Homo sapiens: one gene and its partners. The protein of the gene in region 3 interacts with the protein of the main gene of each other region in a biochemical or structural test. Each region holds a gene or a part of one and is shown on either strand. Other genes may lie near its edges. The genes, in order: NRP1, RNF115, USP9X and NUAK1.

Region 1 (7,916 bases), on a different chromosome or scaffold from region 3:
CTAGCGATTGAGAAAAACAATATAACTTATATTGTCTTCTTTTTTTAATTTATGGGAAATGATTTCTGTAATGCATGTAGCTTTATGCATTTTTGATGTGCACTTCATCTTTCATTTCCATTTGACCTGGTTTTCCTGTAATAAAATTCTGTAGATTTATAAATTCATGCTGAGAGCAAAGAATGCCATTCTCTTTCCACAGGGAATCTATTAGATGCAGTGTTAAAATCTACATCTACCATTACTGAAAATTTGTGATTGATAGGCTTATATATTTCACTGTTTTCATACCGTTTCTCTTATATAGTTTATGCACCGAATTTTTATTGCTCAAAATTAAGCATCAATAAATGTGGCAGCATTTCAGGCTGAGGTGCTCCAGTATGAAATCCATCATAAAATGTGACAATGAGAATCTATGCTGAACAATATAGGCAGCCCAGAGACTGGTTTACTTGGTTTATTTGGCTTCACTTGAGCATTTTTGAAATGAAGGCTCAAAACTACTTAGCTCACCTTTCCCAGAATGTGAGAATGTGGGTTACCATATGTGATACCCAGACCTGTGTGGTGGGTTATTTTTCACCCAACATTTAGGTAATTAGAATTAATGCCATGTGGCTATTTACTTTTCCTTCTGCCCCGTTGCTTTGATCCGATCTCCAAGCTTGAACAACTTTACTTGGAGAAGTAAAGCAGAATTATTTCTGCTTCACCAAATATACTTTGTTCTCTGTTGATTTGGATCTCAAGAGCAGAGATAACTCAAAATCACTTAGATTTATGGGCAGATAAAACAACAACAACAAAAGGTTTGGCTTTAAGCCAATCAAAGACAATCCCCACTGATCAATGACATAGACCAGGCTTATCATCAAAAAACAACACAAGGGGTCGAACAGCATCTTTCAGTCACTTTCCACTTAGAACTTGCTACTTAATGTGATTACACTTCTTGGGGGATAATTAAGTCTAGCAGAAGCTCCCAGGGGACCATGTTAACATCAATTGAGGGGATTTAATGTTTTTAATGCTAGAAGACCTTTTCCTTAGGAAGAAACTTCGGGGCTGGGGGGAAGAGTCCTCTCAGATCTCAGTTGGCTTTCTGCCTGAGTCAACCTTCCTGAGATCAAAGAGTGTTTTTTCCTGGAGTGTTGCACTCAGAGCCACACGAAGGACTTACGGGGACCTTTTAGAGTTCCCCTTAAAAAGTTAAGGAATGTTTAATAACCAGTAATTTACATATAAAGCTAGATTACCTAACAGGTTGTCAGGAAAGATCTGCTAAAATCTTACTTTCATTGCAGATAAATGTGGCGATACTATAAAAATTGAAAGCCCCGGGTACCTTACATCTCCTGGTTATCCTCATTCTTATCACCCAAGTGAAAAATGCGAATGGCTGATTCAGGCTCCGGACCCATACCAGAGAATTATGATCAACTTCAACCCTCACTTCGATTTGGAGGACAGAGACTGCAAGTAAGTGGGAATGTTTTTGAACAGGGCACCACAGCACCATCTAGTGGTCACGCCTGTCTACGGGGGGGAAGTCGGTGTGTACAATGTAGATTATAAATGGATCCAGGAGGGATTCCAATCTCAGCCAGATTATATGTCAATGGTATGGAAATTGAAGTACGTTAAGTGATTTCTGAGTTCCCCAAACCAGGAAGATTATAGTTAAATGTGTAAGCTCTTATACTCCTTCCTGTTAGCACTTTTGGTTTGGGAACTCTTGTTAAGAAATGTATACAGTATGTATGTTTCTTTTTTCTTTCTTTTTTTTTTTTTCCTGGAGAGGGGAAGAACTAGAAACTCAAAAATCTCACTTGTATTTTTACGAAATACAGTGGATCACTAATATACATCGCATCCACAGATAGTGTGATTGGAGATCTCACTATTTGAGATATATTGAACTGTGGCACATCTTATGATTTAAGAACTGCATTCATCTTACTAAGTAAGTTTGACATGGAAAAAGCAAATTGAATAAAATAAGGCCTACAGGATAAGCCAGATGAGGGGTTTTGTAAATGGTGGATTACTGATTAAAATACTTTTATGGAAAATGCTAGAAAATAATTGTTAAGACACGATGAATACAATGGGAACTCAAATACACATCAGTGTTTCATCCACCTGCTTAGTCTTGCTATCTCTTTCTATTGTTAAGTTTCTAAACATCAACTTATGCCCAATTTCGTTATTATGAAGACATTCTCACTATAGAGACAGTCGAAATTATATTTCCTCACTTTATGTGAAAGAACTGGTATGTGGATATTGCTTTCCACAGTATCGAAAGTATGTTTTTACCTTGCACGTAGCAGTCCACTCAGATACATGTTTGCTCGTCTCTCTTAACACCCAACAGACCCCCTGTCTCTGTCTTGTCCACATTATCCCATTCTGACCCACTGAAAGTGGTGTAGTCTCCAGAGACTTGAACCTGAATATCCATCTTTTAAGTTTGTACATATATAAATAGTTTTATCAAAGAAAAATAATCGATTTAAATCTCAATTCTAAAGTGTTTCTCAGGGACTGAGAGGTTTTCACAAGTTTTAAAGTGGGTCAGTTTGGTGTAACCGTATATGATATCTACAGACTACTGCTACCGCTGGACCTAAATATTATTTTGCAAGTATATTCATTGTTAAAGACAGTCTATTTGAACACACATTTCTTTTGGGAAAGAACAGAGTAATATCAAAATCTTCCTACCTGTAGGAAGTGCTCGACAACCTGTTGAGTTGGTTTAGTAAACTAGCTTTTCATGGTCAGAGAGATGAGGTCATTTGGTTCATTCAACATTTTAGTATCTAGAGAATTAGCATAAATCCACAGGCTGATGACCAGTTTCCAAATAATCAGTGTATACTACAGTGCAACAAAATTACACCAATTCCAATTTATCTTTGCTTTGTGATTCAGAAGTGCCTCAGGGCATTATATTGACTTTTTAATTGTGTATGGAAGTTACCATTAATAGTGTTCCAGTGACTGCTTGGAAACAAAGAGTTCATTGTATTGATTTATTTATTTTTGCTAATATTCTTTATGGTGGTTTTTACAGTGTCAATCACCTAGACAATCTGGAGACTTGTTTTCTTTTATATTTGATTTACTTCATTAGTAGTAGCAGTAGTTATTAGTATTTGCTTTTTGACCATGTTTAAACTGCTATAGGAGAAACTCTGGTAAAACATACTCAAGTAATAACATTATTCCAAAAAATAAAGTGCTGTTAGAATTCAATAAACTGACGTTTACTAATTTCTAATCTGGAAATCATGACCATCAATACGTGTAATATAATACTTAAAGAATTCAGAATAATCACTAGTTATTGGCAGTGATGTGGTGGTAAATGTTTAACAGCTGGCTCTTTGGAGAAGACGAGTCAAGTCCTCATTTGTATGTAGCACATGCCAATTTCTGTGGTGTAAATACTCTCATCATAGCCAATTTCAAACTAACCATGTGATGTCACTGTGCCCAGACTAGCAAAGAAATGTGCACAGTTGGTTCTTATGAGCTGGTGGGCGCCAGATCCAGCACACAACTGGAGTAGAAATTTAAGAAGGGAAGCCAGTTGAATCACTTAATATATGTAAAGGGCTTACAATTCTATTTGCACATACATTTCTTCTGGGAAAGAACAGAGTAATATAAAAATCTTCCTACCTGTAGAAAGCGCTCAACAACCTGTTGAGTTGGTGTAGTAAACTAGCTTTTCATGGTCAGGGAAATAAGGTCATCTGGTTCATTCAACATTTTGGTGCCTAGAGAATTAGCATAAATCCATAGGCTGATGATCAGTTTCCAAATAATCAGCGTATACTAATTATTACAACAGCATCTCACAGTATTACAATGGTGTCTAGCTCACAGTAAACCTTAAATAATGATTTGTCATATCATGGTGTCAGGTGGGGTATAATGGGATTAAAGGAGCACCTTTTTGGTTAGTTTTCTTTTTAAAAAGTACATTAAAAGATGATTGTAATTCACAGAAAATGACAGTTTTAGTGATATCAGCAAAGTATTTGAGAAACTGACATGGCCAAGAAGATGTTACATAACAATCTTAATAATGGTGACTTTGTTTGTTTTTTTAATGCTACAGAGTAAGGTGATTTCTTAATTGTCCCAACTGAGGCTTTGCTCTCTGTGAAGGTGTCATCTCCTGGCCAAAGCTGAAAGGCTGTTATATTTAGCCTGATGAAGTCAATGGAGATTAGATCCATGGAAAATATCTTCCTGCTGTGTTTTGAAGTGTTGCATTGTGAGCTTTTTATCAATGAGAAACTCCAGAAAGATATAGGAAGACCAGCATAAGGCATTCCTTTCACTATCTTTCTAAGCTGATTCATATGAATGACTAGTGCTCAGTGTTGAAGGGTGCATTTGAGATTCTACAAATGTGGCAAAATACTTACCTCCTTTTGTGAAGGCTTTGAGAAGAATCCACAGATTTAAATTTTACAGGGGATTGGAATGCCCTAGGGGGAAAAAAAAAACCTGGGAACACCAGAAATTATTTGAAGAACAAATTCATAGACTTCAAAGTTTAGATTAGATTCCTACAAACATAGTTTTGTTATTAGGGTTTTTTTGTACTTTATATCAGGCTATTTACAAAAATGGATTGGAGGTGGCACAAAACTAGGCACAGTTAAAACCACATTCTGAAAGCTGGTGAGCTTTTAGTTATCACTCTTGTTAAGAACAAACTATTCATCTTATTTAAGACATTTAATATTTTTCCTTGTTCCAGCTTCATTATATGTCTGTTGGCAGTAAAAAACATTTGCTATGCTGATGTCATAGGGTTACTAGTAGGATCAAGTAGTAGATAGGAAAGCCTTTTTAAAAGGTAAAAGTGACCCTCAAAATAAGTTATCATTATTATGATATCTTTAACAAGTTGGTGATTTTTAGAACATTTGGAAATATGAAACTAAACATACGTCAAAACTAAATCTATTGACCCAGTAATGAGATGATTTGCACATGATACACCCTGCATTTTCTCTTGAAATGGTCAGTATTTGTATAGTCAACTTCCACCCTGAGAAAGCTTAAGAAATCGATGCCTTAGCACATTTGCTTATTGTGAAACATCTTTGAAACCCAAGTAAACAGTTTTCTTTTGTAGAGTATAGGGATGGTTAAGTCATTAGACCAGCTACATAGTCCTGGTAGAAAAAAAAAAATTTTTTATTTAGATTTTTATTGTTTTATGTATAATTAGGTAAAAAACATCATTTCATAATCTTAACAATACAGTATACAGTCACAACTTCTCATGTGAATAGCACCAAGACTGACCCAGTTCATGAGTTAATTCTGGATCATACTTTGCAAAATGGTGAAGTTTTTGCAGTGGCTGTCAAAGGTGGATACTTCGTTAGGAAAATTAAATGTGTAAGTTGTGCCTCCATAGTTTTAACATGCAACATTCTGTGTCTATGCCAGCACTGAATGAGGTTTCATTACAAATAAGCATCAGAACCATAATACTATAACCCCTTAATTCTTTTATTGAACAAGATGTGGTGTAAATCAGTCGATCAACAGACCAGTGGAGCGTCTGTCTGCAGGGCTAACACAGAACTAGGATTTTTTCCCAGCTATATATATGCATGATTTTATTATTAGATTGAGAGGATTCTAGAGAATGCTCTGACCGAAGAAGGTGTTGAGGGAGAGGAAGGAATGTTGATTTCTTTTTTGCCAGCAAAATCCTGCACACTTGTGAAGTGTCAAAGCATAATTAAAAATAGAAAAGAAATAAAGAAGTGACCAGTGGAGAGTTTTCGGAAACACATGTTCATTGCACATTGAAAATGGTTTTCAGTATGTACATCGAACTAGTTAGATCTTACTCCACTAAAGTTTTCTTCAGTGGTAAGGCAGACATCTTGAATCTCATAAAAGTTTATATCTGTATAATAAACAAGAATGTCATTGATATGGTAGTTAGAATTTATGAAACTTCTCCAGTTTCCCAGCAATGCACACAATCAGCATGATAATTTATAATGGTTTGTGACAAATACTGCTGAGCAAAGAGGTGTATGGTTACATTCAGATCAGATGTCACCATCCGGGGAGCAATAAAAATTTCACAGACATTGGGTTAAAAACATTAAGGAAATGAATGCAAAGCTCTAACAAAAGTCTAAAAAGGTGGTAGCATTGGGGGACTCAAACCCAGTAGTGCTTTTCCTACTGACAAGAAGAAAATCTTACTTACCGACTTCAGTGTCTGATTTGACAGTGCTGTTTCATATCATGGCACAGTTGCTTTTTTCAACTATGATTTAGATTTGTAATCTCTCCTCTGTGTAACCAACAATAGGCATGTTTTTCCTAACTCAGTGCGTTCAAAGGAAGATCGCATACTTGTAACTTCGTAAGAAGTTTAATCATAGTGAAATTATAAGCAAATAGAGATGATATTCGTTTCAGAATTTTGTTGGGATAATTCAGATATTGTTCCTTTAATGCTAGTTTTTAAATTACCTAAATTATTAAAAACTTTGAAACAGTGCTAATGTCTTTTATTTTCAGAGAATATAAACTTATGGAATGAAAAATAATCTGCCCTTGGTTTCTCAAATCTGATTATTCCCGCACATTTACATTTATTCCTGCACATTTACACTTATTGGCATTTTTTGGAGTGTAAGTTCCATTTTCTGTTTTCCTGAGTAATATGAGTAATATTTTCTGTTTTAATCTTTCTTTATTATTACTAGCATGGATTTTTTAGGATTAATTTGGATTTTTAAAAAATGTTACATTAAAATACTATTTATCTTAATCACTGAGTTTTTGGCTTTTTGTATCCAAGGGAAGTACCTCACTCTAGTCTTGTATTTTAGAGCATCACTTAGACTAAAACAAAATCCTTGTTTTATGGAAAACTGAGTTTTTTAAGCCAAACTACATCTCTATTTTCCATATGAAATAGAGAAGAATATATACCTTTAGTAAAGTATAATATATATTTAGAAAAATACACAACCCAAGTATAAGATTTGATAAAATTTTGCAAGGTGGATACATCCACAAAACCAATCTAGAGGCCAACATTTCCAGCTTCCTAGAAGCCCTCTGATGTCAGTTTTAGTCACCAACCTTTGCCCTCAAGGGCAACTGCTGTCCTAACTTCTGTGACTTCATTTTTATACATTTCAAAATCAGGTAAAACTCAACTAGAGTCTTAGAAGTCTGTATGTACAGGCCAGGCACGGTGGCTCACTCGCAAACATTGGGAGCCAGAGGCAGGCATCACTTGAAGTCAGGAGTTCGACTGAAACCAGCCTGGCCAACATGGTGAAACCCCGTCTCTACTAAAAATACAAAAATTAGCCAGGCAAGGTGGTGCACGCCTGTAGTCCCAGCTACTCGGGAGGCTGAGGCAAGAGAATGGCTTGAACCTGGGAAGCGGAGGTTGCAGTGAGCCAAGATCCGCACCATTGCACTCCAGCCTGGGCAACAGGAGCAAAACTCCGTCTCAAAAAAAAGAAGCCTGTGGGTACTATCCTTGAACATAGACAGTGAAAGTCTTTGGAGTGGATATAGAAAAAATAGGTACTATTTCTAATCAAAAAGCAGAATCCTACTGATGCATTTTCTAATTTTTTTCAGTGGCTACTGATGGAAATATCTTGTCTTTGTTTCAAACTTTTCAATCTGGAGCCTGCTTTATTATGCAGATTTTATGTGCAAGCAAATTCAGAAACATTCTCCTTTGCCGTATTTTTCTTCATCTTTTTATTTCTGGTTTTGATCTCTGGTGACTTCTCAATGTGAGAGGCACCACCACCAAGCTCAATTCAATTAAAAAACTATTGGTGGAAGAATGAACCCTCCTCAGAAGAACTGCTGGCCAAAGT
Region 2 (7,916 bases), on a different chromosome or scaffold from region 3:
TCGTAATTTTTCTTACACAGCAAAACCAAAAGCCCCACAATGGAAAATCATTTTCTGTTCACTGATTGTTAAAAACTTTTTTTAAAAAAAGTCCTGTGACATCAAGTGCTTGCCAGGATGTGGCACAGTAGAAACTCTTAAACACTTGGTGGGTGTTTAAATTGCTACAACCAGTTTGGAAAACAATTTGTCATTACCCAGTAAAGTTGAAGATGTATAGATCATGTAATAGTTTTACAGACCAAAAATATAGAAACTCTGGTACCTCTGCAGAAGAAGACATACAGTAATATTCACAGTGGCCATTTGTAATATAAAAAACTGTAAACAATCCAGGTGTTTATTGATTGATTTTTCTAACATGTGACTTATTTCTGGTCTTTACTAGCTTTGGGGCCATTTGGATCACACGATGTTTTTTCAAGATTTTAGACCCTTTCTAAGTAGCAGTCCACTGGACCAAGATAATAGAGCCAATGAAAGGGGTCACCAGACTCACACTGACTTCTGGGGAGCAAGACCTCCACGGTTGCCATTGGGTCGGAGATACAGATCTCGAGGAAGTTCTCGTCCTGACAGATCTCCAGCTATTGAAGGGTGAGTTGTTTTATTTTAAGTTCTTTTTAAGGTAGTTTCAATGAAGGACAAATTGGTATAATCTAATCTTTATAAGGGTCTCATACTTATTACCTTTGTGGACAAGATGGACATATGTAGAAAGGATGAAAGTGAAGCTAAATTGAATGTTAGTACTCACCCGATGATAAACCAGAGAGTGAGAAATGCTATGTCTCTGATTAACATTTTTATTAATGGCTCAGATTAATTTATAGATGATATGTGTCTCAGTCCATTTTGTGCAGCTATAGCAGAATACCTGAGACTGGGTGATTTATAAAGAACAGAGATTCATTTCTTATATTTCTGGAGGCTGGGAAGTCCAAGGTTGAGGGATCCACATCTGGCGAGGGCCTTCTTGCTGTGTCATTCCATGTTGGAAGGCAGAAGGGCAAGAGAGCATGCATGAGCAAGAAAGAAAGGTGCCACACTCATCCTTTTATTAGGAACTCACTCAACAATAACTAATCCACTTCCAGGATAAAGGCATTTAATCCACTCACAGGAGATTCATCTCTTAAAGTCTCCACCTTTCAACACTGCTCCACTGGGGATTAAGTTTCCAACACATGAATTTTTGAGGAGGGCACATTCAAACTATAGCAGTATATTTATCAAAATTTCAAAAGGGTATCAAATATATTAGGCATTAGGATTAAATATTTCAACAGATTGGAACAGTGGACTTAACATGAAATTTAATCAAGTATCTGCTTTTTGTGAAGAAAGGAAAAAAATTTAATAGGATAAATATGAAGTCTTGTGACTGTAAAAACATTCATGTAATAAATGTTTGTTGAGTGTCTTTTGTATGGGACACTGTACTAGACACTAGGAACACAATGATGAGTCAAATAGATGGTTTTGCTCATGGATCTCATTTAGTTGGAATAATAAACGTTAATTTTAAGTGTTTACCATATGCAGAGGACTGTGCTTCATGCTTTATCTGCTTTATGTTGTTTAATTTGTGTGAAGTAATAGGTGCTATTGCTGTTTTCATTTTATAAAATAATTAACTGAGTCTCAGAAATAAAGTAACAGCCGTTGGTGGATCTAAGACTTGAATCTAGGGCTATATGAATCTAGTGCGACATTGTCTTATATGGTAGCTGCTAGCCACATGTAGCTATATGTTTACATTTAAGTTAACCAAAAGTTAATAAAACTCAAAATTCAAAGTACCTCAATCCCAAATAGCTATATTTTGAGTGCTCATTGGCCACATGTAGCTAATACTTATCATATTTGACAGAACATATTATAGAAAATTTCCATTATCTTAGTTCTATTGAACAGTGCTGTTCTAGAGCCTACACTCCCCCTTTCCCCCAACACACACCTTCTAGGCTTTATTAACATTTTACTATACTTGCGTTATTACATATCTATCCATTAGTGTTTCTTTGTTAAACTTGTTTGCTTTTGGTTCCTAATATATGCACTATCATACTAAGAAAGTTTAATTTTATTCATAATTTATTAGGGGCTTTTAATTAAGAATGACTAATGATTTTGTCACATGCCCTTTGCAGTCCTATCAAAATGACCTTAGAGTTTTTCTCCCTTAAACAGTTAATGCATTTTATTAACAAGTAGGTTTTCTAATGTTTTCTAGTGTTTTTATTCAAGCTGCTTTGTCAAGGAGCACTAAAACCTCTTTTTTAGGGGTCGGGGTTGGGGAAACAGGGTCTCACTTTGTTTCCCAGGCTAGAATGCAGTAGCAAGATCATGTTTCACTACAACCTCAAACTCGGTGGGCTCAAGCAATCCTCCCACTTCAGCCTATGAACTAGGTAGGACTACAAGCATGTGCCACCACGCCTGGCTAATTTTTCAATTTTTGGTAGAGACTAGGTTGCCCAGGCTGGAGTCTCTTAACACATTATTGGAGTTGATTTGTTCCTTATCTTTTTTTTTTTTTTTTTTAAGGATTTTTACATTTATTCAAAAGAGGATGAGTCTCTTTATCAAGTTTTGGTGTCAGGATTATATTAGTTTCATAAAAGGAACTGGGAAAACTTGCTGTATTCTTATGCTTGGAAATAGTTTACATAACACAGGAATTACCTATTATTTAAAGGTTTAATGCAAGTTACCTGTAATTCCATCTGGACCTGGTATCTTTTTGGGAACTAGATCTATTACAGTCTTTTCAGTTACTTCTGTGGTTGATAGTATAGGGTAGTGTTTTATTTATCTCTGTATTCTCAGCTTCTAGTGCAGTATCGGTTTTATAGTGGCTACTAAACATGTTTGTTTTGAATAAGTGGATAATTGTAATTATGTCTCTAAAAAGTATAAAAAACATATGAATTAATAGTAATAATAGCTAAGAGTATGTGCCAGAAACTAGTCTAAATGCTTTACAGGTATTCATTTGTTTAATCCTCACTATAACCATGTGAAGAAGGTATTGTGAATATCTCCATTTTACTGGAGAAACTGAGGCACAGAGAGTTTAGGTAAATTGTCTAAGAGTATAAAGGCAGTTAAATATTGGAGCCAGGATAGTGCAATAATCAAAGTATTTGTATTTGGTGAGATTTTTAACTGTTTACTTATACTAAAAAATTTTAGTATAACTATTTAGTATAAGTCAAAAATTTAAAATTAAGTAGCCTTCTCACTTATTTTTTAACCAAAGATTTAAGCATTTCCCTAATTTTCTCAGAAACTTTCCTTCCAAGGCACCAGTATATCAGTAAATAGAACTTGAAAGTTTTTAATTCAGTTTCTTTTCTCTTTTCTTTCATAGAAGTATAAATAAACACAGTATATCTTTGGGGCCTATTACTATACCCAGCTAGCAGGCCTGCCTAGATTGTTCCATATGGTTGTTACTTTACAGTAATTGTCATTATGATGTCACTGTATGTTTTGAAAGTACAATTTCATGTTTTATACATTTTTAAAAATTGATTGAATTTTAGCATGGCTTCTTCCTGATAACAGTTTTGTCCTCTTGCTTTGAGAAGGAGCATATGGGCATTCCACTTATGGTTTCCATGGGCTGCATCTCAGATTCCTGTTCATTCTACGGGTTTCACTGTAGACAGAGTACTTTGTATTTAATGGCCGGGTGCGGTGGCTCACACCTGTAATCAGCACTTTGGGAGGCCGAGGCAGGTGGATCACTTGAGGTCAGGAGTTCCAGATCAGCCTGGCCAACATGATGAAATCCCATCTCTACTAAAAATCCAAAAATTAACCAGGCATGGTGGCGGTTGCCTGTTATCGCAGCTACTCAGGAAGCTGAGGCAGGAGAATCACTTGAACCTGGGAGGTGGAGGTTGCAGTGAGCCGAGATTGCGCCACTGTACTCCAGCCTGGGCGACAGAGCAAGACCTCATTTCAAGAAAAAGAGTACTTTGGCTGGCGCCAACAGGGTCCAGGTCTGTGCCTGCCATTGGAGAGGATGCCACAGCCACAGGGGTGGGCGCTGGCCTGGAGGCCTCCAAGGGGCATCTCCTGTGAGCCCAGGGGATGGGCAGGATCTGAGCGGAGAAGAGTGAAAGTGGAGGAGTGAGGCCAGAACAAAGGCTTTGCCGTGAAAGAGGTGGTTTCCCGCCTAGGCTCTGACCTTCACTCACTGTGTGGCCCAGGCCAAGGGCAAGCGTCTGACCTCGCTGGGCCTTTGTTTCTCAGGGGTAAGATGAAACAATGGCTCCCTCTCCCTCTCCCTCTCCCTCTCCCCACGGTCTCCCTCTCCCTCTCTTGCCATGGTCTCTCTCTGTCTCTGATGCCGAGCCGAAGCTGGACTGTGCTGCTGCCATCTCGGCTCACTGCAACCTCCCTGCCTGATTCTCCTGCCTCAGCCTGCCGAGTGCCTGCGATTGCGGGCGCGCGCCGCCACGCCTGACTGGTTTTCGTATTTTTATGGTGGAGACGGGGTTTCGCTGTGTTGGCCGGGCTGGTCTCCAGCTGCTAACCGCGAGTGATCCGCCAGCCTCGGCCTCCCGAGGTGCCGGGATGGCAGACGGAGTTGCGTTCACTCAGTGCTCAATGGTGCCCAGGCTGGAGTGCAGTGGCGTGATCTCGGCTCGCTACAACCTCCACCTCCCAGCTGCCTGCCTTGGCCCCCCAAAGTGCCGAGATTGCAGCCTCTGCCCGGCCACCACCCCTTCTGGGAAGTGAGGAGCGTCTCTGCCTGGCCGCCCATCGTCTGGGATGTGAGGAGCCTCTCTGCCTGGCTGCCCAGTCTGGAAAGTGAGGAGCGTCTCTGCCCGGCCGCCATCCCATCTAGGAAGTGAGGAGCGTCTCTGCCCGGCCGCCCATCATCTGAGATGTGGGGAGCGCCTCTGCCCTGCCACCCCGTCTGGGATGTGAGGAGCGTCTCTGCCCGGCCGCCCCGTCTGAGAAGTGAGGAGACCCTCTGCCTGGCAACTGCCCTGTCTGAGAAGTGAGAAGCTCCTCCGCCGGGCAGCCACACCGTCTGAGAAGTGAGGAGCCCCTCCGCCCGGCAGCCACCCCGTCTGGGAAGTGAGGAGCGTCTCCGCCCGGCAGCCACCCCGTCCGGGAGGTGAGGAGCCCCTCCGCCCGGCAGCCGCCCCGTCTGAGAAGTGAGGAGCCCCTCTGCCGGGCCAGCCGCCCCGTCCGGGAAGGAGGTGGGGGGGTCAGCCCCCTGCCCTGCCAGCCGCCCCGTCCGGGAGGTGAGGGGCGCCTCTGCCCGGCCACCCCTACTGGGAAGTGAGGAGCCCCTCTGCCCGGCCAGCCACCCCGACCGGGAGGGAGGTGGGGGGGTCAGGTCAGCCCCCCGCCCGGCCAGCCGCCCCGTCCGGGAGGTGAGGGGCGCCTCTGCCTGGCCGCCCCTACTGGGAAGTGAGGAGCCCCTCTGCCCGGACAGCCGCCCCGTCCGGGAGGGAGGTGGGGGGGTCAGCCCCCCCCCCCCCCCCCCCCCGGCCAGCCGCCCTGTCCGGGAGGTGAGGGGCGCCTCTGCCCGGCCGCCCCTACTGGGAAGTGAGGAGCCCCTCTGCCCGGACAGCCGCCCCGTCCGGGAGGGAGGTGGGGGGGTCAGCCCCCCGCCCGGCCAGCCGCCCCATCCGGGAGGGAGGTGGGGGGGTCAGCCCCCCGCCCGGCCAGCCGCCCCGTCCGGGAGGTGAGGGGCGCCTCTGCCCGGCCGCCCCTACTGGGAAGTGAGGAGCCCCTCTGCCCGGCCACCACCCCGTCTGGGAGGTGTACTCAACAGCTCATTGGGAACAGGCCATGATGACAATGGCGGTTTTGTGGAATAGAAAGCGGGGAAAGGTGAGGAAAAGATTGAGAAATCAGATGGTTGCCGTGTCTGTGTAGAAAGAGGTAGACATGGGAGACTTTTCATTTTGTTCTGTACTAAGAAAAATTCTTCTGCCTTAGGATCCTGTTGATCTGTGACCTTACCCCCAACCCTGTGCTCTCTGAAACATGTGCTGTGTCCACTCAGGGTTAAATGGATTAAGGGCGGTGCAAGATGTGCTTTGTTAAACAGATGCTTGAAGGCAGCATGCTTGTTAAGAGTCATCGCCACTCCCTAATTTCAAGTACCCAGGGACACAAACACTGCGGAAGGCCGCAGGGTCCTCTGCCTAGGAAAACCAGAGACCTTTGTTCACTTATCTGCTGACCTTCCCTCCACTATTGTCCTATGACCCTGCCAAATCTCCCTCTGCGAGAAACACCCAAGAATGATCAATTAAAAAAAAAAAAAAGAAAAAGAGTACTTTGTATTTGTATTTAAGAAATCAGATGTCAGAGATTAGCCTTTGTGGGATTATTAGTGTGTTCCTCACACCAACTTAATAAGTTTCCCTGAAATGAGGTCCATTTTCTTTGACTTTTTCATTGGCATGAGTAAAACTTTTTTACTAACACAGAGACAGGGAACTCTCACATTGTTCATTCATTCTGCAAATATTTATTCAGTGTCCCTAAAGTATGTGCTTTATCCTCTAATCTGCAGCTTTTGAATGATAGTTAATTAGGTCTTGAATAGACTAGCTCATCTTATCTGACTTTAAGTGCATCTGACCTGTGCCAGCAGATTAATTTATAAATTTATAACTGAGGGTATTCTGTTTCAGTGACTATAAAACTCATTTGTTTGTTAGCATACTCTTGTCTTTGAATTTCTCAAGTATCAAGAAATCAAAAGCAATCAGATGGTTGTTTAGTACATATAGAATCAGCAAGGAAATTGCATGATCTTTAAGAGAAATTCCATCCAGATTGTGATAAATGCTAAGGAATTACTCATATTTCACTTCAAATAATTTTTTTTTAATTTTTTTTTTTTTTATTGATCATTCTTGGGTGTTTCTCGCAGAGGGGGATTTGGCAGGGTCATAGGACAATAGTGGAGGGAAGGTCAGCAGATAAGCAAGTGAACAAAGGTCTCTGGTTTTCCTAGGCAGAGGGCCCTGCGGCCTTCCACAGTGTTTGTGTCCCTGGGTACTTGAGATTAGGGAGTGGTGATGACTCTTAACAAGCATGCTGCCTTCAAGCATCTGTTTAACAAAGCACATCTTGCACCGCCCTTAATCCATTTAACCCTGAGTGGACACAGCACATGTTTCAGAGAGCACAGGGTTGGGGGTAAGGTCATAGATCAACAGCATCCCAAGGCAGAAGAATTTTTCTTAGTACAGAACAAAATGAAGTCTCCCATGTCTACTTCTTTCTACACAGACACAACAACAATCCGATTTCTCTATCCCTTCCCCACCTTTCCCCCTTCTCTGTTCCACAAAACCGCCATCGTCATCATGGCCCGTTCTCAATGAGCTGTTGGGTACACCTCCTAGACGGGGTGGTGGCCGGGCAGAGGGGCTCATCACTTCCCAGAAGGGGCGGCCGGGCAGAGGCACCCCCCACCTCCCGGACGGGGCGGCTGGCCGGGCGGAGGCACCCCCCATCTCCCTCCCGGATGGGGCGGCTGGCTGGGCGGGGGCTGGCCCCCACCTCCCTCCTGGATGGGGCAGCTGGCCGGGCGGGGGCTGACCCCCCACCTCCCTCCCGGACCGAGTGGCTGCTGGGCAGAGACGCTCCTCACTTCCCAGACGGGGCGGCTGCCGGGTGGAGGGGCTCCTCACTTCCCAGACGGGGCGGCTGCCGGGCGGAGGGGATCCTCACTTCTCAGACGGGGCGGCTGCCGGGCGGAGGGGCTCCTCACTTCTCAGACGGGGCGGCTGCCGGGCGGAGGGGCTCCTCACCTCCCAGACGGGGTCGCGGCCGGGCAGAGGCGCTCCTCACATCCCAGACAGGGCGGTGGGGCCGAGGCGCTCCCCACATCTCAGACGATGGGCGGCCGGCAGAGACGCTCC
Region 3 (7,916 bases):
TCCAAAATAGGAAGCAATGAAATAATTACAATTAAACCATCAGATTATTCACCTATGTTTGTATATCAAAGTATTTTAGGGCAAAATAACATCTACACAAACCAAGGAGAGGCTACAATTAATGCTCTCTGGATGCCAGTCTAACCCCTTGCGGGGAGCGGGGGGGAAGATGACACTTGTGCTTTGATAATCCACTGTTTAAGGAACCACATTGAGAGAGTAGTCATTCTGTAACCCAGATTCCCTTCTCTCAATGACCTTTCAACAGACCTCAACAGACAGCAGCTCTCAGTGAGGAAAGGGAATTGGAGGTGGCAGGAAAAGTTGAAAGGAAGACAATAGAGGTGTTTTGCTTTTTAGCTCAGTACTCCATTCTGTGGCAGAAAAGCCAAACTCAAATTAGCAGCACCTCCCTCATACCATGGGAGCACCCCATTGATCTCCTTCCTTTATTCCATTCCCTAATCATTATTTCTTATCTTTCAGAAGAACGGTTAAAATACCATCTCAATCCCCCGACACTCAACTCTCCAACACATCTGCCACGAATGCCATCAGAATTATCTTTCAAAAACAAACACAAATCTAATGTCTCCTTTCACTTAAACTTCAAAGTACATCTCTCATTACCTTAACAGTAAAAGGCAAATGTCCTAACATGGCACTCAAGGTTACCCCTTGTGATTTTAGCTTCACTCAAACTACCTTTCAGTTCCATCTCCCATAACCCCTCCCCTCCCAGTATCTCTAGTGTTCCTTGCACACTCTCCTACTAGTTCTTACTCTGAAAACACTATACTTTCACACTTGCATTGCTCCATTTCAAATAATGGTTCTCAATTTTGCCCCCAGGGCACAACTGGCAATGTCTGAAGACATATGAGTGGGGTAGGGGCTATACCACTGGCATCTTGTGGGTAGAAGCCAGGGCTGAGTAGGACAGCACCTCACAACAAAGACTTATCTGCCCCAAACTGTCAATAGGGTTAAAAAACCCTGCCTGATCTCAAGTTGATCCCTCTGACCGGAAGTCCCTGCTCTAATTAATAGGGCCATGAAAATAGGACATCTTTGAAGACCTCACCCAATGCCAAACAATGATTTCTCCATCTCTCCTACTACACTTTTCACACCTCCACTTAATACAGCTGTAATTGCACTGTATAACTGTCTGGTTCACCATACTTCAGAGCCTTGAAAGCAGAGAATCATCTTTATATACCCTCTGGTGCCTAAAATGGCACAGGTTGAGCATCCCTTATCTGAAAAATCTGGAATCCAAAATGCTCCAAAATCTGAACTTTTTTTTTTTTTTTTGAGACGGAGTCTCGCTCTGTCACCCAGGCTAGACGGAGTGCAGTACCGCGATCTGGGCTCACTGCAACCTCCACCTCCTGGGTTCAAGGGATTCTCCAGCCTCAGCCTCCTGAGTAGCTGGGATTACAGGTGCACACCACCATGCCTGGCTAATTTTCATATTTTTAGTAGAGACGGGGGTCTCACCATGTTGGCCAGGCTGGTCTCGAACTCCTGACCTCAAGTGATCTGCCCGCCTCAGCCTCCCAAAGTGCTGGGATTACAGGGGTGAGCCACCGCGCCTGGCCCCAAATTTCGGATTTTGAATTTTCACTCACCCGCAAGTAATATTCCAAATATTCCAAAATATGGGGAAAAAATTACAAAATCGGAAACACTTCTGATCCCAAATATTATGGATAAGGCGTACTAACTGAATCTATATTAAATCAATGAATTCAATTCAATCACAGTAAGGTAGCACTGACATGATTCTCCTTCCCATAATGCACCGAGGATAACAAAGCAATCCTCAGCTGACATTGATATGGCTCAGATAACGACATGCACTGACATCAGACAAGAAACACACCAGGCACGGTGGCTCACACCTGTAATCCCAGCACTCTGGGAGGATGAGGCAGGTGGATCACCTGAGGTCAGGAGTTCGAGACCAGCCTGGCCAACATGGTGAAACCCCATCTCTACTAAAAATACAAAATTAGCCGGGTATAGTGGCACCCACCTGTAATCCCAGCTACTCAGGAGGTTGAGGCTGGAGAATCACTTGAACCCAGGAGGCGGAGGTTGCAGTGAGCCGAGATCACGCCATTGTACTGTAGCCTGGGCAACAAGAGTGAAACTCCATTTCAAAAAAAAAGAAAAAAGAAATACACCTGTAGTCACTACAGTAGGTTCCTCCTCCAACACTCAGTCTGGCCCCACAATCCCTCTTGCCTCAGCTCAGCATGCTCCAAGTCAACTCTTAAGAATCCTGGATAATTAATTATATCTACAAAGGACACAGTAAACAGATAATATACACACTAATTAAATGAGTAAATGAGATTTTCTATATTTTCAAAAGTCTGGACAAATGCTGTACATAGCCAGTATCCTCCTTTCACATTCCCGAAAATGTGAGAGAAGTCAAAAATTTCAAAAACGACAGTCACCTTTTTAGGGGTTTTTCCCACTCACAGAGTACAGAAACTTTTATTTCTAATTATACCCTCACCTTTCAAATGTAAACTTCATCATACATTTGCCTCACTTAATTCCTATTTCATTCTAATTATTGCATTCACTATTTGCACAAAGCCAACTAACCTAACCAATGAGCACAACCTAATCCAGTAAGGTTTAAGATTCATATCCCTAACCAGTTCCCTCTGTCTCAAGGATATTTAAGACCTCCAGGTAGGCCAGGCATGATGGCTCATGCCTGTAATCCCAGCACTTTGGGAAGCCGAGGCAGGCGGATCACCTGAGGTCGGGAGTTCAAGACAGCCTGACCAACATGGAGAAACCCCAACTCTATTAAAAATACAAAATTAGCTGGGTGTGGTGGCGCATGCCTGTAATCCCAGCTACTCAGGAGGCCGAGGCAGGAGAATCACTTGAACCCAGGAGGCGGAGGTTGTGGTGAGCCGAGATCGCGCCATTTACTTTTTTGTTTTCTGCTCATTCTTATAAAAAGGCAAAATACATCTGAACTTGCACATAAACACAAGATACTGCCGTACAAATACAGCAAAGCTGCTGAAACCAAACTATTCTCAGGCAATACCACCTTGCAATAAAAAGAAATCCCTTTCATCAGCTAATGTACAGAAGTTTGAACCTGACTTAAGGAAAGGAGGTTCAGAGTTGTTAACATATAGTGTATCAAATAGGAGGTCAAGCACAGTGGCTCAGGCCTATAATCCCAGCAACACTGGGAGGCCAAAACAGGAGGATTGCTTGAGGCCAGGAGTTTGAGACCAGCCTGGGAAACACAGTCAAACCCCTGTTCTCTAACAAAAATTAACCAGGTGAGGTGATGTCGGCCTGTGGTCCTACTTACTCGGCAGGCTGAGGTGCGAGGATGCCTTGAACCCAGGAATTCCAGGCTACAATGAGCTATGATTGCGTCACCACAATCCAGCCTGAGTGACAGCGAGACCCCTCCTCTTAAAAAAAAAAATCACTGCTCTTAACTAGGGGCTGGCAAACTATGGTAACAGACCAATTCCAGCCTCCTGTTTTTGTACAGCTCACAAGGTAAGAATGGATTTCACACAGAACGTCTGCAATCAATTTGATGACAGGGAACACTGAACTTTACCCAATAAAGCAAAATACTGTATTACCTCCCCTCCACACACACACACCAAATTGTTTTTCTCATTAGACCTAAGTTATACATAACTGTATTTAATTATATTTTTTATTTCACCAATAAAAATTTTACCCAATGTCCTCAATTTTGCCTCTTAGCCCACAAAGTCCAAAGTATTTACTATGTGGCCCTTTACAGAAAAAGTTTACTGATCCCTGTGCTCTGAACTCCAGAGATGTTACCAAGCAGAGCAACCAAAACTTTGTACACTACACCTCGACCAGAGAGAAAACACTGTTAGGCAGAAATGGGTTCAATACTATACGGTAACTTCCATGCTCTCTGGGGTCCAAGTTAATAATGAGCGGCCTTACTTAGGAGTTCTAAGTAACCAGTTAACAGAAAAGACTAGAAATGAGAGATGTAACCAACAGCCTCAACTTATAACTCTCAATAGCCACCAAAGTCAGCAGGAATAAAATGGACATCAAGGATACTAACAGGAGGCTTCGCCACTCCCTTTTTCCTTTCCACCCAATTCACAGGCTCTGTAGAAGATGGGATCTAATATGCACGATCACCAGCTCAAACTCATCCCAAGGAAAACAATTCCTTTGATTATGGTTGACTAACATGGTGTTCAAAGCTCACATGATTAATAAGAATAAACTGTAGGGTGCCATAAAATGAAGATGAATCAATTCTGTACAAGAGGTTGGAGGTACTGCAAGTTAAATACTGCCCCAGATTTTCCCATTCAGGTAATCAAATGGTTATTATAAACAGTATTATTCTAGGTGCTCTGTAATATACAAAGGTAAAGGACAGAATCCCTGACCTTATTATCCATTACCAGGGAGACAGTTTAATGTTAATTTTATGAGTGACTACAGAGAATTTAATAATTAATGTGATTTGACACATATAGATATAGCTTCATAAAGAAGGTAGTCTATGGCATGCTATCTTGGTCAAGTTACTTCACCTTTCACCTCTTTGAGCCATTTTTTTCATCTGAAAAATGAAGGGTCTGACTAGAAAGAATTGAGATCTCTTCCAGGATTTCTCATTGTAATGAGATTAGTAAGAAAAGTGACTCCCAGAAGTAAAAAGATTTAGCAAAAAATAAGTAAAATAGCAAGAATGTGATAAACTATATTCATCCAACAGTTACTAAATGTCTATATGCCAGGCACTTTCTAGGTGCTAAGGATATTATCACTGACTTAGAATGAAAGCCACTAACCTTAAAGATAGAATTGTGAGGACAAAATTAATCAAAACACCTAAACAAAGTAAATTAAATAGAAAAACACACTGTATAGAGATAATAGAGCATCAATACAGCAAAGGAATGGCAGGAGTAAGGGGTGACACCAGAGTATGTAATTTCTGGTCAAAAATTAACAGCATCAGAAGTACAGCTATTCCTAAAGCCAGTATGCCAAGAATTCCAAAAGAACCTATTTCTACTATACTTGACATTTGGGCTCACTGGAGAAAACTGGAGTTCAGAATGAAATTCTATTTAGTGACAAAAAAAATTCAATTGGCATATACCATAACAAAGTTTTTTTAAATAACAACTTAATCCAATCTCTCCTACGAGGTACATAAAAGAATGCCAGAAAACTAGCACTAAAGACTTTAGAGATCAGCTAGTCCAGCCCACCTCACTTCATATGTTAGCTTCTAGACAACAGTAATCTCTAGAACAGTGCCTAGCACACAGCAGATGCCCCAGAAGTATTTGTTGAACGGATTAAAAAGGAAACAAATGTCTTAACAGATATTAATGTTTATAGTAGAGCTGGAACCGTAACACCGAGAAGGTGCTAAGTGACAATAAATTTGATATATATGTGCACATATACTGTATATAATACATGTGAGTGTGGAATCCCTGTCTCTTCTAGTGTTTGAGCTTTTCACTACATGTTTGTGTTTCAGTCTGGAATTTTTGACTGTGTGACTAACAAAACGAAACTCAAACAAGAGTACTGCTGCCTAATGGTGGAACACATGACATGCAAAGGGTCTCAATTCTCCCCTTTCCCTAAAAGGGACTGCAAAAAAAAACCTCTGGTTACACATCAGACTCACCTATAGAGCAAATATATATTTTGAAAAAGCTCCACAGATGATTGATACACAGAGGTGGTAGAAAATCCTTGTTAGGCAGTGATTGAGAATAAAATTGAAAATCCATTTGCTGCCAAATATAAGATATGTGTGTATACACACGTTGAAGACACCAAGATTTAGCATGAGTATCTTTGAAGAATAAATTTTAGGTAAGCGATCTCATCCTAACAATATACTTTTTCACAAGTTATTCTTTAAAAGTATATTACAATGGTCATCACTTTATAATCCACAATAAATTATAAATTCAATGCCCAATATAGGTAAGTGTTAGAAGTTTTAAGTCTTTTTCCTTATTACATCAACTTTTTTCATGATCCTTATAGTCTCATTTTCTATAATTTAACAAAAAGATCTTTGGGGAATCTTGTGTCACACTAAGAATGCTCATAGGGCCGGGCCCAGTCGCTCATGCCGGGAATCCTAACACTTCGGGAGGCCCAGGTAGGCAGACAGCTTGAGCCCAGCAGTTCAAGACCAGCTTAGGCAACAAGGCAAAACCCATCTCTATAAAAGAGAAAAAAAATACAAATAGCCAGGCATGGGAGCACCTGTAGTCCCGGCTACTCAGGAGACTAAGGGGAGAGGATCACCTGAGCCCAGGAGAGGTGGAGGCTGCAGTGAACCGTGACCACTCCAGCCTCAGTGACAGAGTGAGAATCTGTCTCAAAAAAAAAAAAAAAAAAAAAAAAAAAACCCTCATAGATCCTAAACTCCTATAGGCTTCCCTGCTGCCATGCCCCCACCATGCAGAATTTGGTCCAATGGACCAAGGGGATTAAGAGACAGAAACTCCAAATAAATGTCTGTTATTGTTATTTCATTCGTTCCATAAAACAATTATACATCAATCCCAAAACAACACAAAATTCAAAACGCTTAATCAAAATCAAACTGATTTTGACTAAGACAAATAAAACTCTAAATTCTCAAACTGAGATAACAGAATTTCATGTGACACTAAACGGTAATTTGTGGGATCATTTAAATAAATTACTAGGAGACAAATGCATAGTTTCTACACCTTTTAGGAATGTTGTGTAATATTTTGTCATAAACGCACCAACTAAACTATCACCCTGAGCACGCTGGAAGATATATGGAAGGGGAGAAACCTATTTGCCACATAGCTTTTAACATCTCCCTTGGGCAACCAAGATATTTATCAAATTGGAGACTATCTTGATAGTCTTAAAAACTAAACTATATCTTAACTTACTCTGGTACGAGAAACAAACCAAAAGCTCTAAATGCTTTTTTAAAAATAGCAATCAGTGTCATTTCACTAACATAGCACAGTAGTCGAAGCACCACTGGTTGAACCTGACAGACCTCAGACCCATCGTAAGGCAATAAATGGAAAATGCTTAACAGTGCTGACAGACAATTAATGCTCAAATGATAATCATGCTAATAACTGAAAACAATTGAGAAAAAAATCCATTTTCTTATTTATCCACTTGAAAGTTCTAACAACATGATAAAAACAATAGCCCAGTGGTTTTCAACTCCAAATGCATGTAAGAATCATCCACAATGCTTTTAAAATATACCTTTGCCCAGGCTCCCTATCAGACCAATTAATCAGTCTCTGGGGGTGGAACCCAGGGATCAGTTTTTTTGTTGTGGTTGTTTTTTAACCCCGCCAAGTGATTCTCATGTCCAGTCAGGGTTGAGGTCCAATGCACTAACTCTTTCCCAAATATTAACGTTAAACTCTATGTTAAAATAATACAAGAACTTAGCAATACACAGGATGGCTTTCAAAAACACAGCTCCTAAAAGAACCAAATGACAACTAAAATCCGGTTTTTTCCCTTTTTGAAAAAAAAAAGAAAAACAATTCAAGACTCAGAAAACATACCTACAAGAGGGGAAACATAATGTAGGCTACCATAAAAAGTAATACGTTCTTTCAGAATAAAAATCAACTAACTCAATCTCAGGATAAGACCCCCCTCACCTTCACTGCCCAAAAGACTTAGAAGAACACTAATCCATTAACACACACTGCTAGATATTTCAAATAACTAATTCTTAACATCTGTTTTAAACAAAGATTGGTTTTAATACTAAAATTTTGAAACTAAAACGTTAGAAATTGATCTTATTAAATAAAAATAAGCTCAAAGACACTTGTTGTGTGACCAACTAA
Region 4 (8,468 bases), on a different chromosome or scaffold from region 3:
ATTTAAAGTAAATTGTCCACCAGACCACATGTTTAAGTTAGAAACATCACAGTCTTAGGTAACTTTTCAAAACTTCATCTAGCAAAGTGTAAGAACAGTTATCAGCCAAAGCACAGGCATTAATTGACATGAGCTCGGGATAGGGGTTGGAGCAAAGCCTTAGAGTCGGAGGCTCGCGTTCAAATCCTGACTGCAGTTACTGTTTGATCACAGGCAACTTAGCCTCTTTGAGACTCAGATTTCTCAGTAGCAAAATGGGCAACATAACACCCACCTTGCAGTTTTACGATGATTAGCAGGGCGATATGCATATGTAGGGGTCCTAGGTAGTAAATAAATAATGTAGTAGGTAGTAAATAAATAATGACTGCTACTACTATGTTTTCTGAACAAATGTTTCTTTTTTTTCTTTTATTTTTAACTGACACATCATTGTACATATTTATGGGGCACAGTGTGATATTTCGATACATGCATACAACGTGTAATGATCAAATCAGGGTTATTCACATAGCAAACATATATCATTTTGTTGTGTTGGGAACATTCAAAATCTGCTCTTCTAGCTATCTGAATATATAAAATAAATTATTAATATAGACAATATATTGTATATAATTTATATACAATAAATTATAAACATACAATAAATAAATATATACAATCAATAATGAATATATACAATATAATATTCTACTGTATGTTCTTAAATACACAATATAAATTACTAATTTATTGTATCCTCCCAATTAAATTATTAATTATAGTCACCCTGCAGTGCTATCAAAGATGAGCACTTATTTGTCTTATCTAGTTGTAATTTTGTGCTCGCTAACCAACCTTTGGCTATCCCTGTCCCCTCCCCCAACCTCTAGTAACCACAATTCTACTCTCTACTTCAATGAGATTAACTTTTTTAGCTTCCACATATGAGTGAGAACATGTGGTATTTGTCTTGCTGTGCCTGGCTTATTTCACTCAACATAATGTCCTCCAAGCTCATCTATGCTGCCTGAATGACAGGATTCCTGAACAACGATTTCTTGAGAAAGCGAACATACCTTCTTTCTTTTAAATTGCTTTGAAAATAGAAAGTGCAGTGAAGGACCAGTAATGAGCCTTATGTAAATAAAAGATGTAGGATAGTGTGGATGTCACACTTTCAAGTGCCAATGTTACTACATCTGTCCTGTATCCAAGAACAAAACCAGAAATCAGAGTCTAACCAAGCAGTATGATTAAACTGCTTAAAATTGCCCCAGGCCAGGCACGGTGGCTCATTCCTGTAATCCCAGCACTTTGGGAGGCCTAGGCAGGTGGGTCACCTGTGGTCAGGAGTTTGAGACCAGCCTGACCGACATGGTGAAACCTCGTCTCTATTGAAAATACAAAAAAATTAGCTGGGCGTGGTGGCACATGCCTGTAATTCCAGGTACTTGGGAGGCTGAGGCAGGGGAATTGCTTGAACTAGGGAGGCGGAGGTTGCAGTGAGCCAAGATCGTGCCATTGCACTCCAGCCTGGGTGACAAGAGTGAAATTCCATCGCAAAAAAAAAAAGGCTCCAAATTCTAGTAGGAGCTATGGAAGATGAAAAGTATCGTATTAATATCCACGATTTATTGAGTGGATATAGTCTAGCCCTTAATCCTCATACCAACCCTGTGGGATGTGTTATTGGCGTAATTGCTAATACCACATACATTGTTACTGTCAGGCCTCTGTGCCCAAGCCAAGCCATCGCATCCCCTGTGACTTGCACGTATACGCCCAGATGGCCTGAAGTAACTGAAGAATCAGAAAAGAAGTGAAAATGCCCTGCCCTGCCTTAACTGATGACATTCCACCACAAAAGAAGTGAAAATGGCCGGCCCTTGCCTTAAGTGATGACATTACCTTGTGAAAGTCCTTTTCCTGGCTCTTCCTGGCTCATCCTGGCTCAAAAAGCTCCCCCACTGAGCACCTCACGACCCCCACCCCTGCCCGCCAGAGAACAACCCCCCTTTCTTTGACTGTAATTTTCCTTTACCTACCCAAATCTTATAAAACGGCCCCACCCCTATCTCCCTTTGCTGACTCTCTTTTTGGACTCAGCCCGCCTGCACCCAGGTGATTAAAAGCTTTATTGCTCACACAAAGCCTGTTTGGTGGTCTCTTCACACAGACGCACATGAAAGTTACCATCGCCACTTTGCAGATTAGAGAACTGAGGCATAGAGGGGGAAAACAATTATCCAAGATGATCATAAGAGGTGGAACAGGGATTTGAACCTAGTCACTCTGCCTCTAGATCTGAAGCTCTTAATCAAGGAGCCTGGGCTCTTGTTGGAGAAAATGCTTTATCGATGTGAAAACATTCACACACAATGCCTGATAGCATTGTGCTGAAGTGTGGTTCCAATTATAAACGTGGTAGGAATTCAGTCTGGAGAGGAACTCCCAGTGCCTGGGCATGACTGTGTGCTAGGCATTGTACTGGGTGTTTTTCATCCTTCCCATTTAAGGAGACGGAGCATGGCATATATGAAAGGAGAAGGGGGAGCTTTGGAACTGGACAGGTAGGGTTTAAATCCTGGTCCTGCCATTTACAAACTGTGTAACCTCTGGGAAATTACTTAACCTTTCTGATACGGTTTCTTCAATTGAAAATAGGGATTGTAAACAGCTACTTTACAGAGGAGGGTTTACTGTCATAAAACAGTACCAGCCTATGGTAGATGATGCTGTTGATTCAATAGATACTGATGAAGTCCCACATATCTGGGAGTAACACTATCAGCCAGAATAAGCCAGGTTATGCTGCTTTAACAAATCCCACTGACTTAACATAAATAAAGTTTAATATTTGCTGACACTACTTTTCCAATGCAGATTGGCTGGGATTTTCTGCCATCTTTACACAGAGACTCAGGCTGGCTTGGGGAGGCTCCAACTTTGTACCACCATGATTGTCAAGATAGGAAAAAGAAGACATGGGGATTTGCTCACTGGCTCCTAAAGGTTCCAAGTGAAAGCAACACAATCACTTCTGCTCTCATTCCATTGGCCTAAGCAAGTCCGATGGTCTCATCTAACTTCAAGAGGATGGGGTAGTGGATTTCTACCACATCGCAGGGGAGGGGAAGAAGTAGAAAATATTTTAAAATACTACTGTAGACACAATGTGTTTATCTCTACAATAGATCTGCTAAATCCATATCTTAAGAGAAAACCGAAGCTCTGAGAGGTTATGTCATTTGACCAAGGCCACACAGCCAATCCTCTGGGAAGCCAGGACTCAACCTGCATGCCACTCATCCTGACTGTGGGATCTATAGGCACAACGTCCACAAACTGTATAGAAGCAGAACAGTTTCAGGATGGGGGTGGGTGGCAGGGAGGCCCTGCAAATGCGGTGGACAGAATAGGAATTGAATAGGCATGATGCGCCTTTGTGTCTGTGTTCTGTCATTGCTCCTGGGGAAGGGAAGAAGGGGCAGGGAAGTTTGTGTGAAATATCAGTAGAAGGAAAGTTTGGACAGGTAAGAATATCACGCGTCAGAGTACAGCAGAGACACGTGTGGAGGATGAGGGCAGTGTTTCAGGCCATTACTCTGGCAGCAGTGAGGAGGCTCCCGGGGAGGGTTGGGGAGAGCGGGCTGTTGCTGGAGTCCGGGGTAAGGTGACCAGGGGTAGACAGGAATGAAGGCGGCGGGAATGTAGAGGAAGGGCTGCACCTGAGAGCTGCAGAGGAGGCCCCAGTGAGGTCCACTGGTGGAAAAGAACCGCCATGCGATCTGCAGAACACCAGACCTTCTTCAGCCTTCACTCTTCCCACCCTAGTCTGGTACATTGCACCACTTGTTAAAAAAAAAAATTTCCCTAAGACCTCTTTTTCTCTAGCCTTCTTCCTTATTTTTCATGGTCTCTTCTTAGAACGGCGGCAGCCACGCCGCGGTGGGAGGCCCTTCCTGCCTGACCCTTACCGTGCGGGGTACCGTTCCTGTCACCATCGCCAGGATCTGGCCCTTTCAGTGAAAGGAAATCTCCCAAGGCCTAAGGAGGCAAGAGGCCTGCAAATCGCCTCCTGCTCAGCAAACGGGTTGCTCAGCAGGCCCGGGGTCCTGGTCCACCCCAGGTCCCTGGTTTGCCCACCTCCGATGGCGGCCTTCGCTGGCAGGGTGGGCGCCTCTGGGGAGCCAGCTCCGTCCCGGCGCCTTTAGAGCCCCATCTCTTCCACGTCCCTGGCCTTCCTCCCCTTCCAGGCGGCTGTCCCCGCCGGGGTCCAGATGGTGTCGGAGGGCCGGCGGTTCGACGGCGGGCCCGGGGTTCAGCCTCCCGGCCTCCCTCCGTCCCTGACTCTCCTTTCTTCGGAGAGGGCGCGGGGGCCGGGGCCAAAGCGCCGCTCTTGGGGTTCTCCTGGACTCGGAGTTGCCCCAGGCGGGCGCAGCTCTGCCCCGCGGGGTGCCAGCCTCGGGCGGGCAAGGTCCGTGAGTCACCGCCTGTAACCGAACACCAGGCCTCCCTGCCCCCTCCCCCAGCTCCGGCCGCCAGGCTGCGGCGACACCTACAAGAAAATGAAGGGGCGCCCAGGCCCGCGGCGGCCCCGGCCGTATCGCGAGCAGGTCCCGGCGGCCCCCGGCTCGCGGCGCTCTTTCTTCCCCGGCCCCGGGGCTCGGCCAGCCGCAACCGCCGCCCCGGCGCCAGCAGGAATCCAGGCCGAGCGACCGGCCCCGGAGCCCGAGGCGGCGGAGGGCCCGCGGTAGCTGCGACTGGCGAGCCCGAGAGCGCCCGGGGAGGGGGCGCCCGGCTTGGAATTTCCCGGTCCCTTCCGGCCCAGCGAGGACAAAGCACTCCTGGCCGCCGCCGCCGCCGCCGCCGTGGCCTACGCCGCGCCGCACAAAGGGCGAGTCGCGACACGCTCCCATCCCCCTCCCAGCTCACGGCGGCCCCGGCCCCGGGTGGCTGCAGGGAGGTGGGGGAAGCCCTGGCTGCACCGCCCCTCGCTCCCCCTCCCCTGGGGCCGCGCGAGCGCCGCCCCCGCCCCGTCTGCGCGTCCTCCCGGGGAGGGGTTGGGGGGCGCGGCGCCCCACATAACACTCCCCCTCCTGCGCTGCGAGCCACCCTCTCCCCTCCCTCCTGCAAACACCACCGCCTCCCCTGCCACCGCCGCCACCTCGCCCGACGCTCCACAGCTCGCCGCGGCCGGGGGGCGGTGCGCGGACCGTGCGCGCCGCGGGCGCCAGATGTGCAGTCCCCGCCGCCGCCAGTGACCGAGCCGCAGTCCGAGCGGTATCGGGCCGCCTCCCTGATGCTGCGGGGGCGACCTTGAGCGTACAGCGGCTTCCCTCGGTGGGGACCCCGACATCCCAGCGCTGTGCCCGGTCTTGCCCTCTGTAGCCCGGCTCGCCCCGCGCTTGGACATGGAAGGGGCCGCCGCGCCTGTGGCGGGGGACCGCCCCGACTTGGGGCTGGGGGCGCCGGGCTCTCCCCGAGAGGCGGTGGCGGGGGCGACTGCAGCCCTGGAGCCCAGGAAGCCGCACGGGGTGAAGCGGCATCACCACAAGCACAACTTGAAGCACCGCTACGAGCTGCAGGAGACCCTGGGCAAAGGCACCTACGGCAAAGTCAAGCGGGCCACCGAGAGGTTTTCTGGCCGAGTGGTGAGTGGGGCAATCCTGGAGGGTGCGGGGGGCGCTGGGTGGACGCGGCCGGGGACTGAGGGCGTGCGAGGCGGGGGTCTGTGCGCCCTGGGGCTCTCTTGACAGAGAGGGGGCTCATTGGGAAGCCCCGAGACAGACTCCTCACTCTTTCTCCAGCACCCCGTGACTCAGGCGTGTCTCTGTCCTGAAACACTTGTTACATCCTGTCTGCACATATTTTATTTTATTTTTTGGTTTGTTTTTAAAAATTTAATCCTAGCAGCAAAGGAATGTTTTAGATTTGCAAACACTTTGCAGCGTTGGGACGGCCGGGGTCTCTCTCCCTCGCAGGCACTCATTTAGACCATGCCCCGAAACGTCTTATTTCCACAACTCTCCAAAGAACCACATTCCCAGCTAGGAGCTAGCCCCTCAAGTCCGGTGTTTTGTAGGTGTCCCTACCCCCTTCCACCCATCTGCCCGCAGCTCCTTGCTCTGCATCCTCCCACTCAGACTCTGCATCGCCCTGATACTGCTGTGACTGCAAGGGAGGGCGACTCTTGCCTGTTTTTGAGACAAGGTTAGGGAGCAAAAATAAAGACTACTGCAAGCCTGAGGATTCTAACAGTTTGCATCATGGCTTTGGGAGGACCGAAATGTCCAGGGCATGGGTAGCTACAGAGATAGCTGTGCTTAGTTGCAGCAGGCTCAGTTGTGTTTCAGCTCCTGGTTGCAGGGCTACCAAACCGCTGAAGGGGTCTGGCCCCGCTGCTCTTGTGACAGCTGACACCCTGCCAGGGTCCTGGCACCATTTGCACAGCTCCAAGGAGTGCTTTGAGTGCCTTGGGGTCTGTCTGCCTTGTCCCAGCCTTGGTTTGTTGTTATTTTCACTTCTGCAGAACAGGCCCTTGAAATCCACACTGCTTGTGGCTAGAGAGTTGGGTTCAAAGTGACTGACTGTTGCAGAAAGATTTTGTGTGGTGTGTGGCAGAAAATTAACATGGTTCTTTGATTTGAAGCAGATCAGATGTATTCTAATCGATTTAGGGCCAAAGTCAGAAACTGATTATGGGACTCCTTGTGTGCACTTTTGGGGGTGTTTTGGAGGCTCAGGTTTGCTTATAAACAACAAATGACTGCAGGGAAAAAGGAAAATGAGCTGTCAAATAAAATAGCAGCTTAGTATTGACATGTTTCTTTTGCATTTCGGCAGGAACAGTTCTGTGAAAAAAACATGGGGGTGCCAGTCAGCAAAGTTCAGTCCCCAAATTCTCAAATATCTGGATACCCGGATAACGCCCTCCCAACCCATTTCTCAGATTTGATGTTTGGGTCTATATAACTTCGTCCCATAACGTTATTTTAAAAAAAAATCTGTTATCAATTAATTGGAAATTTGAGATGGCGTACATTTCTTTTTAAAGCTGGCTCTGTAATAAATTCTACAGCAAGCAAGTAGTTGAGAATTCACTCTGGGCAGGTGCCATTTTCGTAGGATGAAATTGTTAAAGGGGAGGGTTGTAAGGGTGGCCTCTGATGAAGGCAATTTCAGGTTTGTGGAAGAAGAGGCTGGGAAACGTGCACTTCATTCATGCTTTTCTTCTGAGGTGATATTCCCCAGGCTGGATGTTGAATAAGCAAAAACTAAGCTTAGATCCCTGCTCATGTTGTCTTAATAGCTGCTGAAGAATCGCACTGGGAAGGTGGGAAGCAGAATAATGAAAAACAGACGCAGTTCGAGCTGCAGGTTGAGAATGTGAGGCTATGAGGGGTTGTTGAAGTGGTAAGGGTGTGTCTAGGGTCTGTGAAGGGACCCCAAAGTCTAAATGCTGGGGCACTACCTCAGACCTTTCTAACGAACGAACCCTTGTCTTATGGCAGACGCCTTTCTGAGCGTCAGTGGGACTTCCTGTCAGGCGTTCTTGAGCTGTCTGATCCACAGACTAGGTTAGAGTGAAAGGGATTTGCATCAGTAGGCAGGAGTCCGCCTTTCTCTTTTGGGGGATGTCTTTCTCTGTATTTGCAGAAACTGAACATTCCGTCAGGATTTAGTCAAGCGGCCACGAGGGGGCGCCCTGAGAACGAGAGAGGCTTCTTTACCAGCCGCAAATCTGAAGTCCCGCTGTGTTATTGTTCAGCCCTAGTTCATTTTCCCATTGTGCTATTAATTTCAGCTAAATCTCTTGTTTTACCCCAAAATTATGTAAAGATTTTAAATCTGGCAGCAGACCCACGCCCAGAAACTGACAGTCTCTAAAATGCTTCGTTTATTCATGGGGCTGCTTTCTCCTTGATAGCTGAGCTTACAGAATGTTAGCCAGATCCCTGGGTAAAAACCTTGCATAAAACAGATGGGAAAACTGAGGTTTGGGGAAGGAAAGTCCTCCTTGGCCCCCCGTCCTCCCCCTGCTGAGCACACTGCTCACAGATGGTGTTAAGAACTTTAGTGAGAAACAGGAATTGTCAAGTGGAAAATTTCCTGTGACTGGCTGAACAGAAAATAACACCAAACAAACAAAAAATTGGTCAACGAGTTGTTCTTGCCCATACAGTGCCTGGTGACTCAGAACCTGTTAAGAGCAGTAAGACATTTTCATCTAAAATATGAACTTGGAGTTTTCTTCTGGTACCAGCGATGTGCTAAACATTCACAACATGCTTTGAAGGTGCAGTTGAGGAGAACTGAAAGGGCACTATCTTAATTTAGCCTTTTGATCTTTGGGTAGAATTTTGAAGTGATGTTTTATTTTCATTTGCACCAGTGCCTTTTACAGCATCTCTCAAGAGGAGCAGTGGTTCTAACGTGTTTTACTAATGTGAGTGGCCCAAGACAGGTGCCGAGTATGGGGT

Evidence for each region.
Region 1: of the proteins of USP9X (region 3) and NRP1, one has a biochemical effect on the other in vitro, tested with the Homo sapiens proteins (one study listed by BioGRID).
Region 2: the proteins of USP9X (region 3) and RNF115 form a complex in vitro, tested with the Homo sapiens proteins (one study listed by BioGRID).
Region 4: the proteins of USP9X (region 3) and NUAK1 form a complex in vitro, tested with the Homo sapiens proteins (one study listed by BioGRID).

What each region holds. Positions count from the first base shown.
Region 1 is NC_000010.11:33,324,274-33,332,189, reverse strand, and holds part of NRP1 (neuropilin-1 isoform a precursor), read left to right. Parts: intron 1-1,307; coding exon 1,308-1,482; intron 1,483-7,916. UniProt on the Homo sapiens protein: Cell-surface receptor involved in the development of the cardiovascular system, in angiogenesis, in the formation of certain neuronal circuits and in organogenesis outside the nervous system. Mediates the chemorepulsant activity of semaphorins.
Region 2 is NC_000001.11:145,764,392-145,772,307, reverse strand, and holds part of RNF115 (E3 ubiquitin-protein ligase RNF115), read left to right. Parts: intron 1-388; coding exon 389-597; intron 598-7,916. UniProt on the Homo sapiens protein: E3 ubiquitin-protein ligase that catalyzes the 'Lys-48'- and/or 'Lys-63'-linked polyubiquitination of various substrates and thereby plays a role in a number of signaling pathways including autophagy, innate immunity, cell proliferation and cell death.
Region 3 is NC_000023.11:41,088,445-41,096,360, reverse strand, and holds part of USP9X (ubiquitin carboxyl-terminal hydrolase 9X), read right to left. Parts: intron 1-7,916.
Region 4 is NC_000012.12:106,135,585-106,144,052, reverse strand, and holds the start of NUAK1 (NUAK family SNF1-like kinase 1), read left to right. Parts: upstream 1-5,098; 5' UTR 5,099-5,399; coding exon 5,400-5,639; intron 5,640-8,468. UniProt on the Homo sapiens protein: Serine/threonine-protein kinase involved in various processes such as cell adhesion, regulation of cell ploidy and senescence, cell proliferation and tumor progression. Phosphorylates ATM, CASP6, LATS1, PPP1R12A and p53/TP53.